2 separate regions of the Homo sapiens genome follow, and region 2 is linked to region 1. The links come from fine-mapping of genetic effects on gene expression. A gene starts in region 1. The other region holds a variant in brackets. All regions are shown on one strand. Distances are between the middles of the regions. Region 1 holds the start of ABCA2 (ATP binding cassette subfamily A member 2). Region 2 overlaps UAP1L1 (UDP-N-acetylglucosamine pyrophosphorylase 1 like 1).

Region 1 (4,372 bases):
ATGGGGCTGCTTGTTCCCCACGGGGGGTCCTGTCGCCTGACTTCTGGGCCTTTGCTCACCCTCCGCCTGAGAGCCCTCCCTGTGCCGGGCTGCCCACTGGCTACCCCAGTTCCTACAGCCTCCGCCAGACGGCCCCTTATCAGAGAGCCTTCTGTGTCCCCCAAAAGGCCAAGGCGATGAGCCCAGGAGTTCGAGACCAGCCTGGGCAGTGTAGTGAAATCTCATCTCTACCAAAAATACAAGAATTAGCAGGGCGTGGTGGCTCACGCTTGTGGTCTCAGCTACTTGGGATACTGAGGTGAGAGGATGGCTTGAGCCCAGGAGGTTGAAGCTTCAGTGAGCCGTGATCACACCACAGCACTCCAGCCTGGGCAACAGAATGAGACCCTGTCTCAAAACAAAAACCAAAACAGGCCAAGGTTGGGGAAGAGTAGGGAACGGACGTCAGAGGCCTGGCCAGGCTGAAATCGCCCATCTCCCAGGCCCGCAGGCTGGAGGGTGTCTGGGGTGACAGGGTCTGACCTGTGCCTTGTAGCTCCCTCTGGTGGCCAGTGCTGGGGAGGCACTGGGGATGCGGCTGCAGCCAGGGAGCCCCTGTAGTGGACGGTGGAGAGTGGGGCGAGGAGGAGAGAGGCCAACCCACGGGTGGTGCTGACCAGGGCCCCAACAGGCTAAGCCCCCGGGGCTGGGGCACAGGGCTTGTCCCTACCCCAGGTAGGGGTGGGCAGGTTGAGGGCAGGAAGCCCCCCTCACCCATGGCTGTGGCTTGTGGGAAAGACCTGCTGGTAGCTTCCTGCCCTGACCCAGCCCTGTGGACTGAGCAGAGAAAAGCAAGTGCCTTGAGGCTGCGGGCTGGGGTGGGAAGCTGATCCCTCACTCACTAGCCCAGGGTCACCTTCCTGCTGCAAAGGAGCTGGGAGGAGTGGGGAGCTGTGGCCTCGGAGGTCTTCATTCACTTGAGGATGCGCCTTCTATGTGCGCCCTGACACTGGACACCACACAGCGCTACTCCACCCCATTCACAGGGGGGAAACTGAGTCTGGGAAGCGCCGTCAGAGCCACCCATGGGGTCAGCCTGTCCTCTGTCGCTCTCTACAGGCCACGCGGAGGAACTGCCCCACCTCCCGGGGCGCCCCAGCAGGTGCCAAGCCACAGCCGCAGAACCGCCTGATCCCGAACTCCCTGTGCAGAGACCAGACTCGCCCGAATATGGGGAGAAAAACGAGCCGCGTGCAGCAGGGGCCGCCTCGGTCCCCTGCCTGCTCCGCTCACGGCGAGCGTTCCTGGGGCCTCGAGTTTCCCCCCTTCCGCTGGCTGCTCGGAATCGCGGGACGGACCCACCTGGCCGCCCTGCCTCCCTTCCAGGTGGGCACCACCTGGACTCCAAGTGCTGGTTTACAAAGCACACAGGAGACCCTTACGGGGGTGAGCTGGCCCCTCGCCAGCGTCCGCTCGGCGCGCCCCGGGGACAGTGAAGGCTTGGGGCGCCTCTGCAGAGTCGCCAGCGCGGTGGGCGCAGCCGGATGCCTCTGGGAGAAGAGCGCAGCGCCCGAGGGTCCCCCGGCCTACGAAGGCTAAGCCGGGGTCTCGGATTCGATGTGGGCGCGTCGCGTGACGCCCGGCGAGGGGCGGCCCGGAGGCTTCCCGGCGGCGGCGCGCGCAGGGTCTCGGGCCCGGGTCGGTCCCGGGCGCGGCGCGGGCGGCGGGCGCCTCCTGGCGGGCGCGGACGGAGCGCGGCGCCTTTAAGCGGGGGCGGGCGGGGCGCGGGCAGAGTCGCTGTCGCCGCGGCCGCCGGGGCGGAGCCAGCGCGGATCGGGTCCCGGACGCCCGAGCGCCCCGCCCCCGCGCGGGCGATGCCCAGCGGCGCGGCGGGCTGCGGGGCCCGGCGGGGCGCGCAGAGGAGCGGGCCGCGGCGCTGAGGCGGCGGAGCGTGGCCCCGCCATGGGCTTCCTGCACCAGCTGCAGCTGCTGCTCTGGAAGAACGTGACGCTCAAACGCCGGAGCCCGGTGAGCCCACCCCACGCGCCCGCCCTCAGCCCGAGGCCGCGCGCACCGCGGCCAGAGGCGCGCTCCCCGCGCGCACGTGCGGACGGCCGGGCGCGCGCAGACCCCGGCGGGCGCTGGGGGCGGCGCGGGCCCGAGCCCCCTCCCCGCCGGGCCCTGCCCTCGCCTGCCGGCGCTGCGGCCTCCGGGGAGGTGGCTCGGTCGTGTCCAGTCCGGTCCCGCGTCCGCTGACATCGCGGTGCTCGGCTGAGTCACGGCACCCGCGCCCTCTGCAGCGCGCTCGCTGGGGCCGCTGTGGGCGGGGGGCAAGCGGCGCTCAGGACTCTGGCTCGAGGGAGGCCCTGGTTCCCAGGACAGAAGGCAGGCCTGGGGGGCTCCATTCAGCTGCGAGGCTCCATGGTCCTTGGGCCCAGCCTCCCTGGGGTCCCGGAGGAGACCCTGTCCCTTCCCTCCGTCCACCCCTCCCCTGCCCTTGGGCCGCGGCCTGCCATAGAGGTTGGTCCCAGGCATCTCTCCGCCTCCCCTCCTGGCACATCCGTGACCCTTGCTCATGCTCTCGCCACTGGGAATGTCCTTGTGCCAGCCTTGGCCAGCCTGAATCTCTGCACCCATTTGTCCTTTGGGGTCAGTTCTCCCCGAGCCTGATCCACTCTGTTGCCTCCTGGTCCCCCCACCTGCTCTGGGGGCTGGGTCTACTGTTTGGAGCTGTGAACCCCGGCTTTCCCAGCACTGCCTGGGCAGCCAGTGGACCTGAGGGTGCAGGACACATGGCTGTCAGGGACAGAAGTCCTTCGTGGAGCGAGGGGCTTGGGGATATGGGTGTCCTGCCATACCCCCAGCTGGCCAGCTTGGCTCCAGCCTGGGAAGGGAAGGGACACCTCCCAGGCCACAGGCCTGGACCAGCTTAGGTTTCTGAAGGCCCTTGGGATTGTCCAGGCCAGGGCTCAGAGCAGGTGGGGGCCTAAGGCAGACATCCTCTTGCCCAGCCAGGGCCCGGGCGGGACCCCTTGGGCTGCACCAGTCCGTGCCTGTTTATCTTTCAACATGCACTGCAGGAAACCCAGGCTGCAGTCAGCTGGGGTGGCCATCATCACCATGGCTGGCAGAATTCCCCTGGGCACCTGGCCTTGGCGGGGAGCCTGGGTTAGGTACATGCCCTGGCCAGGCACCTGGAGCTGGCTGAGTGGGGTCCCATGGATCAGGCCTGCAGCCCCTGGCATTGAGTCACTGGGGACAGCAGAGCAGGGCCAAGGGAACAGGGATGTGGCATGTGGCATGCATTAGTATTAGTCCCCGGGGGTGGTTGTCAGGAAGGTCCCCACTGGGCTTGGGAGCAGAGGCTGGAATGGTGGCCCCTGTTCCAGTGGGGACAATGCTCAGGGAAGGGAGTGTGGCCTATGAGGGCAGCTGGCAAGCAGGTGGGAGGTGTGCACTGTCCTGACCGCAAGAGTGACTCCCAGCTGCTGGTTTGGGCTGCCCCCCAGGACCTTTTTGGGTCCCCACCCTACAGGGCTCCCAGAGGCCCACTGGGCCACAGTGGAGGTCCTTAGCCCATGGCTGGAGCAGGTGGGGAACTGTTTCCCCCAGGGAGGCTGAGTCCTTGCCAGGCTTGTGATGTGGGGCTGGGGCTGGCTGGACACTGGGCACACTCCTGCTGGGTCCCCACTTTCCTGGGAAGGATCTTGGACATCAGAGCTGGACTCTTGGGGCCAAGCTTGGATGACAGAGGTTTGCCCTGTGTGCCATGCGCCCTGCTGGGGCAGGGGTGCACCCTGGGCAGAGCTCCACCCTGGGCAGAGCTCAGGGTCTGGAGGGTGGGTGCCAAGGACCTCTGTGCTGCTAGCAGGCTCCTCCAAGCTCTTTGCCTCAGTTTCCCTGTCTGTGAGTGTGGCCTATCTCCTCTTAGTTAGCTGGACTTGGGTCTACCCTTGGGCTACAGGCTGCTCTTGGTGCAGGGACAGGGTCACTGTCATGAAGTCACTGGGATGGCAGATGGCAGCGCCACCCTCGGGTCTCACCTGTTCTCCCCCCGACACAGTAGGCGGGAGCTACAGGGAGGGGTCATGCCCAGAGAAGGCATCTAGGCCTCCAGGCGATGTGAAGGCACTGGGCTGGTCTCGAGGGACGGAGGTTGGGCCACCTGGAGGCACCTGTGTGGGGCACCCAGGGCGTGCTAGACCTGTGCTGCCGCCTGTAACCAGATGCTGCTGTGGCGCCCGCCGCCTGCCAGCCAGGACTCTCCTCCTCCTCCCAGTAGCTCGTGCGAGGCCGTTGCTATAGCAATGGGGGAGGCAGCCGGGCCTGTTGCTGCAGTTACAGTGCCCATAGCAGGCCGGGTGTGGGCGGGGCTGGCGCCCCGTGCTGTGAC
Region 2 (4,372 bases), 54 kb before region 1:
AAAGAATTAGCCAGGCGTGGTAGTGGGTGCCTGTAGTCCCAGCTACTAGGGAGGCTGAGGCTGGCCTGGAGGTTGCAGTGAGCCAAGGTCACGCCACTTCACTCCAGCCTGGGCAACAAGAGTGAAACTCCGTCTAAAACAAACAAAAAAAAAGACTTCACCCAACTAACTGTGCTTGTGTAGAAAGAGGTTGCATCCCTGTTCCAGTCATGGCCATGAGGAACAGCTATGAGAAGGGCCCTAAGGCACAGCATGGTTTGCAGTAAGAAGGGCAGAGCCAGGGAGAGAGAAGTAAACATCATCTTCTGGGCTTTGGTTTCAAAAATCACAAGGTGTGGGCCTGAGCCTGCTGCCTGCCCAGGTCTGGGCGCCTCCACTCAGCCACTGTCCTCCCAGTGCCTCTAAATCTGGAAGGCTGCATCTGAACCTGCCCTTCCAGACAACACCCCTCCCCTGGGAAACCAATGGGGATGAGTAGTGGCCCTCCACTGGGGACTGTGGGTTTCGAGGTGGGGGCAGAGGATGAGTTGGCAGCAGTGGCATATCATAGCTCTCTTCATGTCAGCAGGGAGAGGGAGGTGCCACTGCCTCCCCTGAGATGAGAAAGCAGGCGAGAATCACCAGGGGAAGAACCCTGGGGCAGCTGGCTTGTCCCAGCCATGCCTGAGTGCACCAAATATGGAGGCTGCGTCCTCACTCGGAGAGCCAGGCAGCCTGAGCACCAAGATCCGTCAGAAGCAGCAGGCAGCTGGGGTGAGGGGTGGTGCCTCTGACTCATGAAATCCCGGATTAGTCAGCAACCATCACAGAGGCCGCCGGCATTGATCCCACTGGTTCTTGGGGAAGCACAGAAAACTCAGCAGCCTAAACCGACCATGGAAGAGGCTGAGAGGCAGAGGCCTTGGGGATAGATGGGGAGAAGGCAGGAGTACCGGCCGCAGGCTCAGGTGTCCAGGCCAAGCTTCTCAGAGCCACCTGGATCATGGACATCAGGCTCTTTCTGTGGCCTTGCTGGGCATCCAGGGTGTGTGGGCTGGGATGCCCCAGCCTTGCCCCCATTACTGGTTCGTCTGCTAAGGAAGAGGGGGCAGCCCTCGAGTGGGTGGAATTGTCCCCCTCATTCTGGTTCTGCATCTGTAGGCTGCAGAAGCACATCCTGTGTAGCTTATGCAGCTTCTAGTGCTCGGTGGGGTGTGGTGGATCCACAAGGCGGGCTCCCAAAGGGACATGCCCTCCTGTTCTCCCCAGATGACACCACACCTCCCTTGGGCCCCAACCCGAAGCCTCCTCTCAGCCCCATTCTCCCAGGTCCCAAGTCCCTCTGCCTCTTGACTAGACCCCACAGCCAGGAATGGAGCCACAGAGCCCCCAGCAGGCTGTCGCCACTTGTGTCCAGAGGCGACAGGAGAGGCCCTGCCCTCGTGGAGTCTACCAGCATGTTTCATTCTGTGTTCTGCAGGCTGGAAGCATGGGGCAGGCTGCTTTCCCACCCAGAGCTCAGGCTGGGCTGTAGCCCCCAGCTCCAGGACGCCGGGGCTGGCAGGTCTGGGGGGAGTCGGGACTTCCAGGATGCCGGGGCTGGCAGGTCTCGGGGGAGTCTGGGGACAGTCTGGGCGGGTCAGGACTCCTGCAGCTGCGGCTCCCTGGCCTGGTCTTCATCCAGGATGAGCGGGGACTGGAACTCCCGGCCTTGCAGGTACACTTCTAAACCCTGGAGACGAGCAGGGGACAATGGCCAAGTACCCACCTTTTGGCGGGTCACAGCCCCTCTGGCCACACCAAGAGCCACAGTCCCCAGGTGCGATCCCAGGTCTGCCTGGAGTCAGGGAGGGGTGGGGACAGAAAGGCTTCCAGGGCCAGGAGCAGACACACACTGCAAGGCCACCCAAGACCACACTCAAGACCCTAGGCC[A/C]GCAGGGGACCCTCCTGTCACGCACAGGTCTGACCTGACCAGAGAAAGGGGCAAGGGCAGCCGAGGTCAGGGAGGTAGCAGAGGCCGGTGTCCTCCCTCCGCAAGGCCCCCACCAAGGCCTGACTGGCCCCACACTGGGCTCAGACCTGGGCTGTCTCATCCCCATGCCCTCCCAGGACCTGCAAAGGCCTCTGGATGCCTCACCCCACCCCAACCCATATCTTGGAAAGTCTTCTGCAAATTTAAACCACCGACCCCATTGGTTAACCGAGGTAGAGCTGTGCCGTCTCCACCCGAGCAGCCACCTCTCCCCAGATGGTATTCCAAACCTGACACCAGAAAAGCCCCAGATAGGGATGGGCAGCTCTCACCTCTCCAGAGTAAGACACCAAGGGCGATATCTCACAGATGGCCGGAGGGTCTCCATTTGGGGGCAAGCTAGGGAAAGTCCACTTGTCAATATCTCCTTGCAGCACCTGCCCAGAGCCCTCCCCCAGCACCCCCAGTCCCGATAGGAGACTGAGCTCTACACACCTGGCTCCCCACAGCTCCTGTCTCAGCAAGCTCATCTTCCTCTGGACACCCCAAACCCTGAGCACACATCCCACTGCCAAGTGACAGGACCTGATTTGGGGTAGAAAGCACCCCCACAGGCCTCCCACGCAGAGCCTAGGCAGCTAGATTTAGGGGTGGCCCTAGAAAATCAGGGAGATGGAAGCCAAACGTCCTTTTCTTTCCCAGCCCTGAAATCAAACTGTCCTGCTACTTTCTAAATTCATGCCCGGGGCTCAGTTTCAAAGCCTGTGAATAAATGGGAACAACGTTGGTTGGGTGATGGATCCCCTAAAAGCCCTGACCTGACTGACCAAAGTTGCACACACACCCCACAAATGTATACAAATAAGAAAAATAAAAATAAAAAAATAGCCGGGTGAGGTGGCTCACGCCTGTAATCCCAGCACTTTGCGAGGCCGAGGCGGGCAGATCACAGGTCAGGAGTTTGAGACCATCCTGGCTAACACGGTGAAACCCTGTCTCTACTAAAAAAAAAAAAAAATACAAAAAAATGAGCCGGGCGTGGTGGCGGGCGCCTGTAGTCCCAGCTACTCAGGAGGCTGAGGCAGGAGAATGGCGGAAACCGGGGGAGGGTGGAGCTTGCAGCGAGCCGAGATCCCACCACTGCACTACAGCCTGGGCGACAGAGCGAGACTCCATCTCAAAAAAGTAAATAAAAATAAAAATAAATAAATAAAAGCCAAATCTAAGTATGCCTTTGTAAACAAACCAAAACCTTGTGGATAAGTTGGGGAGGGAGTTGGGGAGCCCCTGCCTCCCTCAGTGCACTGAGCACAACTTGAAGGGTCGGGCCAGGAGGCTGTGCCGACAGTCACCGTGTGACCTGGAGCTGGCTGGGCACAAGGCTACCTGCACCTGCGGTGGTGCCGGGAAGGAAGACCCCTCCCCAGCATGGCTGTCGCAGAGCCAACAGGGCTCTGGAGCTGAAGATTGGGTCCTGACAGCCCTCCCCTTCTGGCTGTAGCTACCCCAGGGCCACACTCACCTGGGCAGCTCTGGGAGCCAGGCCCCATGGGCATCCAGGAAGCGGGCCCCGGCCCGCAGAGCCCACCGGTAGTGCTGGGTGAGCAGGGCCTGGCGAGCGGTGCGGGGACTGTCCCTGTCGGCTGGCTCTGCGTTCTTCAGTGGGGAAAATTCCTCCTCCCGCAGCACTTCCAAGGCAGCAAAGTTCCTGGTGGGGAAAGGGCTAGTCACCCACGTCCCAGCACAGAGGCCCTGATCCGGGCAGGTGAGAGCTGGGCCAGGTTTCCAGTGACAGAGTGAAGGTCTGGTCCCATGGGCAGCAAGTCTAGGGAGGAGCCCCCGCAGGTACTGAGTGTTTTTGCTCCTGAGACGCCAGGGATGGCCCAATCCCAGCAGCCATTTCCAGCAGCCGAAGGCCCAACCCTGGGACCCCTGCAGTGAGGGCCAAAGGCCCTGCGAGCCGCCCTGGCAACCTGGCCAGGAGACCTCTCCTAACCATGGGTGGGGGCAGTGGAAGGTCCGGGAGGTGGCACTACTGTCCTCCCAAGTCCACAGCCCCAAGGACTCCCTATGCCCCCACCTCAGGGGCTGCTTACCCTCAGGGCCAAGAGCACCCTCTGGTCTTCTCCCTGAGACTTGCCCGCGGGGCCCTTGGCTCCCTCAAGCCTCTACTTCCCTACCAGCTGCGCCTCAGTTCCCACCACCAAAACTGAGAGAAGGAAGAAGGGGAAAATAAATGAGTTCTACTACTAACTTAGCAAACCGGAACACATCAAACACAAACTTCTCCATCTTTATCCCGTTCGGTTTTAGCGGCTTTACCAGATTCCCCTCCTCATCCACATACGGGACCTTCTTCACAGCCACGTGTGGCTTCAGCAAAGGCTCAAACTCCCTGGGGCACGGGAGAGCAGAGGGGAG

The links. PIP is the estimated chance that this variant, and not a neighbour inherited with it, causes the effect.
Region 2: its variant is fine-mapped to the expression of ABCA2 in whole blood (TOPMed, PIP above 0.99).

Annotation. Positions count from the first base shown.
Region 1 is chr9:137,025,710-137,030,081 of GRCh38, reverse strand. ABCA2 (ATP binding cassette subfamily A member 2) reads left to right here and starts at 1,845. Exons shown (of 49, transcript NM_001606.5): 1 at 1,845-2,007. The coding sequence starts at 1,942. It overlaps LINC02908 (long intergenic non-protein coding RNA 2908), which reads right to left and starts at 2,618. Exons shown (of 3, transcript NR_171031.1): 1 at 2,171-2,618. RefSeq lists an enhancer at 960-1,704 and a silencer at 1,588-1,767.
Region 2 is chr9:137,079,976-137,084,347 of GRCh38, reverse strand. It overlaps UAP1L1 (UDP-N-acetylglucosamine pyrophosphorylase 1 like 1), which reads right to left. Exons shown (of 9, transcript NM_207309.3): 6 at 4,206-4,346; 7 at 3,474-3,659; 8 at 2,284-2,350; 9 at 1-1,711. The coding sequence ends at 1,619. Among named protein-coding and RNA genes, the nearest start is that of UAP1L1, 4.6 kb to the right of the region's middle. RefSeq lists a silencer at 595-829 and an enhancer at 607-936. The variant A/C (reference allele first, on the strand shown) is at 1,913.